2 separate regions of the Homo sapiens genome follow, and region 2 is linked to region 1. Evidence: fine-mapped expression QTL. Tissue or cell type: whole blood. Region 1 holds a variant in brackets; the other region holds the start of a gene. All regions are shown on one strand. Distances are between the middles of the regions. Region 1 overlaps CYRIA (CYFIP related Rac1 interactor A). Region 2 holds the start of CYRIA (CYFIP related Rac1 interactor A).

Region 1 (2,911 bases):
CAAAAACAGCAATTACTTTTGCACCAACCTAATAAATAGTCTCAAAGGATTTTCTGAAATTTTCCATTTTTACCATACATTATTCAACATTATAGATTCTTTAACATATTTTTATAGTTATTTTAGGATCCTCGTCTGTACATTTCAACCTCTGGACTATCTCTAGACTCTATTATTAATCTTTACTTTTCTGGTGATATTTTCTTGCTTTGTGTTTGTTAATTTTTTTCCTTTGCTTTTTTTGAACAAATGCCAGGCAGCAGAACAGTGATGACTGATGTGAATAATACGTGCACTCAGAAAATCACATGCCTTTTCTTCTGTCAGTCCACTAGTGGGGTTGAGTCCATCCAATCTGGATCTGGGCTACACTGTTGCTTGTTATACGTGGTTCACTGTAAATTTCAGATTTGAGGGAAGGATCAAAGCAGGCCCTTTACCAGAGCTGGGGATCTGAAGAGTTTGTCTCAGTTTTCCTGTCACATCTTCAGGCTTCAGAAGGCCCTCCAGAACACCTGATTCTCAGGATGGCGTTTCTCAACCTCCTTGGCCTCACCAGGCAGACAGTTGTTCTTTACTTACTGGAGAGTGGCTGGTGGCTTTCTCTTCATTTTTCTGCTCTGTCTACCACAGCAGGCCTGGCATGGTGGGCCCTAGAGGGCACCTTCCCAATGCTCCTCCCCTCCCGCAGTCATAGATGGCCACACTTCACCCTTAGATAAGACTGAGAGTGTAGGAGCATTTCTCTTGTGTATCTTCCCCTGACCCAGAGGGTTTCTGTCTTAAAATCTTTTTTCCTTTCTTGTTCTCAACTTCTTTTGTTAGCACTTGGTGAAGGTTCATGGAAGAGACTTTGCAGGCTGACATAGACTGTCCTTCTGCCTGGAGCTCCCAGGGCCTCTCAGCTTTCATGACACTTCACACTCTTCTTTTTACAGTGTGTGAAGATGTCAGCTATTTTCTTGTTACCTGCATTTATGGCAGCTTTCTCCTTTTACCATTTCTCTGTCAAACTTGAAATCACCTGTGGTGTCATATCTCCTAGGAAAGTCTTGTCACCTTATGGATTATAATTCATTAAAGACTTTTGCAACCTCAACTTTCTTATAGTCAAAAATAACAAGGATTTTGTAGAGTATCTAACTTGTTTTCTTGTTAGGGTGAGCGCAATATTCTTTGTGAATTTTACTTCTTTTTAAAAAATATGAAAATGTGTTACATATTTATATCTAAATGTGTTACAGATATATATCTAAATTAACATTATTTTGTATCATCTAATATATAGTATGTATAGATATTTCTCTGATTTTCTCAAATGGCATTTAATAGGTTTTTTTACCTTAATAAGAATTGAAATGAATTCACAAAATATATTGGATTATGTTTCTTTTCTTTTTTATTATGGTAAGAAGACTTACCATGAGATCTACCCTCTGATCAGATTTTAAGTGTATAATACAGTATTTTTAACTGTAGGCAAGTTGTTGTAGCATAGATCTCTAGAACTTATTTATCTTGCATAATGGAAACTTTATACCCATTGATTAGCAACTACTCATTTTCCCTTCCCCATGCCCAGGAAACCACCATTCCACTCTCTGTTTC[T/C]ATGACTTTGACTCCTTGAAGTACCTCATGTAAGTGGAATCATGCAGTTTGTGTTTTGCTGTTACTTGTTTATTTTGCTTAGCATAATATCCTCAAGGTTCATTCACGTTGTTGCATATGGCAGGATTTCCTTCTTTTTTTAAGACTGAATAATATTCCATTGTATGTATAGTCTACATTTCCTTTATCTGTTTATTTTAAATGGAAACAACTCAATACTTTTGGTTCAATTTTTCACATTATCATAAAAGGGGTATTCTACGTGCTAAGCTTCTGCTAGTCGTGGTGTGAATAGCTGCAAGTTTACACTCTACTGGAGGAGGCAGACATAATGACCAACATCAATAATGCAATATTGGTAAATGCTGTAGCAGGGACACGACCTGTGCTCCAGGATTCATAGGAGAGAATAACTAATTTGATCTGAGAAAAGATAGAAGAGACAGTTGCAGGAGGACAATCCTGGGAAGATTTCCAAGACAGGGTGAAATAATAGCTTCGACGATGCCATATTTTACATCTTCCTTTCTGAGAAACTTTCTTAGCTTCCACTTACGTTGTTCCTGAAAAAAGTCTCTATATTCAATGCCATTTAGCTCTCACTGCATGATGACTTTTATTATACTGTTTTACTAAATTGTTACTGATAGTTCGTAACTTTCACTTTAGGATGTCAGTCTTATTTTATTAATTACTTCATCCTCCGCATCACCTGTCACTGTGGTAGGCATATAACAAGTACCCAATAAATGCTTTCTGAATCTAATGATCCTGTCCTCACCCTCCTAAGGTCCTTGAGGACAGGAACTATATCGTTGAATCCATATCTCCCAAAAGTGTCTGGCATCATTGGCACTTAATAGGCTGTATTAGTCTACTTTCATGCTGCTTATAAAGACATACCCGAGATTGGGCAATTTACAAAAGAAAAAAGTTTAATGGACTTACAGTTCCATTTGGCTAGGGAGGCCTCACAATTATGACAGAGGGCAAGGAGGAGCAAGTCATGTCTCTTACCTGGATGGCAGCAGGCAAAGAGAGAGAGCTTGTGCAGGGGAACTGCTCTTTATTTATTTATTTATTTATTTATTTATTTTATTTATTTATTTTTATTTTTTTGAGATGGAGTCTCGCTCTGTGGCCCAGGTGGGAGTGCAGTGGCGCAATCTCGGCTCACTGCAAGCTCCGCCTCCTGGGTTCACGCCATTCTCCTGCGTCAGCCTCCCGAGTAGCTGGGACTACAGGCGCCCGCCATCACGCCCGGCTAATTTTTTTGTATTTTTAGTAGAGACGGGGTTTCACC
Region 2 (2,911 bases), 89 kb before region 1:
TTGTAATCCCAGCACTTTGGGAGGCCAAAGTGGGTGGATCACGAGGTCAAGAGTTCAAGACTAGCCTGACCAAGATGGTGAAACCCCGTCTCTACTAAAAATACAAAAATTAGCCGGATGTGGTGGCAGGCGCCTGTAGTCCCAGCTACTCTGGAGGCTGAGGCAGGAGAATTGCTTGAACCCCGGGGGATGGAGGTTGCAGTGAGCCGAGATCACACCACTCCACTCCAGCCTGAGCTACAGAGTGAGACTCTGTCTCAAAAAACAAAAACAAAAAAAACACCTTTGCAGGAATTGACAACAGAGGCTGGTCTAGGGCATGGGGAAAACTCAAAAAGAGAACGGGAAAGTGTTTCTTCTGGTCCTAAGGACCCCTTCCAAGTGGGAAAATATTTCACTCTAACTAGACAGTGCCTTCCTGCCCTCTGTGAATTTTTGCCAAAAAACAGACCAAGAGCCTCTGTGGGCAGTTCAGGAGAGCCTTTCAGAGTGCAAAGGAAGCTTGGGCAACAAGTCCTCCCAGGGGAAACACCCTGGATCTCAGAAAGGAGAGGGGCCTGAACACCTTCTCCTGATGCTTCCCGCCTCCTCTGATCCCAGCCCACACAGGGCCCCAACCCATGCAGCTTCGGGCACGTACCTTGGCACACTATGGGGATTTAACACATGTTTCATGATGTTCTGGCTGATGGACTGGGAAAGGAAGCACCCGAAGCCGGGGTCCCCAGGAGCTCTCCCTCCCCTCAACAGGAGCTCTGACTCACAACCTGTTTGGCACTGCTGAGTCCTCTCCGGTTTCCTGAATCTCCCTCTCTCTAATGCAAAAAGCCTCCATGGCAGATGTTTTAGAACAATGATCACGTCAATGACGCTGTAACCCACTACTTTCTTTTTGCATCATAGAATTTTTTAAGTGTTTTTGCAGACTTACTCTTTAAGGTTAATTACATGTTTTGGATTGAGCCTTTGGGAAGACTTTACAGTGGTCCTATCGGATAACTGCGGGCCCCAAGGCTGGAGATCTGTTAATAGGGTGGGCAGAAAGGGACTGGGAGCGAGACTGGGTTCAGAATCTCAAGTAATTTGGAGTGTGCCTAGGGATTGGGATGATTTGGCTGGGCATTAATTTGAAGGTGAATATGCGTCTAGAGATTGCGGGGATTTCTTTTTCTTGGAGGGCAACCGTGGGTGTGGAGGAATTTGGTGTGCAGAAACAGAAAGGTCTGGTTCGGGCTTCCTCTGGGAAGGCAAGGCCAAGTGGCCAAGGCTGAGAAGGGGCAGGGGCGACCGTGCTGGGGCGGGTCCGCACCAGCTCCTGGGAGCAGAGAGCAGAGCCGGGCAAAGAGATGGGGTTGTCCAGGCTAGGGTGAGGACGCGGCCGGTGACAGCGCGGGTGGGGATCCCCCGGGGCCGGGGCGGGGCGGCTGCCGCGAGCCGGGCTGGGGGCGGGGCGGGGCGGGGAGGGACGGGGAGGGGCGGGGCGGGGCTCCGAGGCCGTCTCGCAGGCTGCGGCGGCCGCGGGAGAGGCGTACTCGGCGGCGGCGGAGCGGGCGGCAGAGCAGGGCGGCGGCGACTCGGTGAGCGCGGCGCGGCTGGGGGCGCGGCAGGGGCGCGGGCGGGGGTCTGCGGGCGCGGGGCTCGGCCTGCACGGGGCACCGCGGGGCACCGCGAGGCGGGGCGGGCGCCTCCCTGCCATCCTTCTCCTCCCGGACGCCCCTGCAGCCTTTGGGAGGGAGGGAGAGCGGAGGACACCGTCCGGGAGCCCTTCTCTAGCGATCGCCGGACAGAGGTCCGGCTTTGTGCCCCGTTGCCCTCTTTCTGAGAGGGCTGCCTCCTGATTGTGTTCCTTTCCCAGACCACCCTCCCTCGTCCCTCACTCACTTACCCCCCACCCCAGGTATCATAAGCTCCATTCTTGCAGGGGACCCCTAACACTCCCCTTCCCACCACCCGAGGCCCCGGGGTCCTGGGTACTCTCTACAGCCCCAAAGGGAGGGATGGCCCCCTCCCCAGCCCCTGCACACCTGGACCCTTCTGTTGCCACCTGCCACAGACGTTCTTAGCCAGCCAGAAAGCTGCTGTGCCTAGGACCCAGCACACCTTGCCGTCACCCTCTCTCCTCCCCCAGAACCCAGAACCCCAGTTTGGCAAAAGGCACTTTTCCAATACTGAGCTTTGGGAACAATTTGACCCACTTCCCAAAATGCTGGTCCCAGGCCAGCCATGCTTTTTGGTGGAGACACCTGTCTTGTCTGCCAGGAGACATTCTCTGTCAAAATGGGCCAGCCCGTCCCTGGGTCCTCCTCCAAGCTGCTCCTACTCGCTAGCCAGTGTCCCCAGAGACCAGGGCCAAGATCTTTGTCATTTAAGGCCTCCAAAGCTATTTCCCCACGCATCCCCAGAATTCCCCCAGCCACTGTTTTGGGGGTGCCAGGTCCAGAACTGATGGAGCAATCTTTCTGTGTCCAGGGCCTGATGTCCTCTCCCACACCCTTGTTTACCCGCCTGCTCCCCAGGGAACCCAAGACAGGGTCATGGGGCTGGAGTTTAGGGCCCTGATCTCCCCTGAAGCTCTGTGACCCTCCTTTTCTCCCTGTTAGAAACTTTCCTCTCTGTCACCAGTCACTATCTCCTCTGGATGGGACCTGGGCCATCTGCACAGTGTCGAGTCCCCAGGGCACAGAATGCTGATCTGGGACCCTGGAAGGCTGGGACTTGTGCTGGGGCAGCAGGAGGAGAGTGGCTGCTAGCCAGGTCTGGGCTTGGGTACCAGAGTTCTTTGGGTGGATCATTGTCGGCTTTCACTGATCTCTGGTTGGGGTTCGAGGGCTTGCTTTGCAGTGGAGACAGGAGGCAGAGCAGGGGCTGTTTTTCCTGCGTGCTTCTGACTGTCTTGTGTTGCTATGGTGAC

What was found. PIP is the estimated chance that this variant, and not a neighbour inherited with it, causes the effect.
Region 2: it holds the start of CYRIA, and the variant in region 1 is fine-mapped to the expression of CYRIA in whole blood (INTERVAL, PIP above 0.99).

What each region holds. Positions count from the first base shown.
Region 1 is chr2:16,575,672-16,578,582 of GRCh38, reverse strand. All of the region lies in intron 3 of CYRIA (CYFIP related Rac1 interactor A), which reads left to right. Among named protein-coding and RNA genes, the nearest start is that of CYRIA, 89 kb to the left of the region's middle. The variant T/C (reference allele first, on the strand shown) is at 1,609.
Region 2 is chr2:16,664,446-16,667,356 of GRCh38, reverse strand. CYRIA (CYFIP related Rac1 interactor A) reads left to right here and starts at 1,523. Exons shown (of 12, transcript NM_030797.4): 1 at 1,523-1,577. RefSeq lists silencers at 1,317-1,486, 1,557-1,606.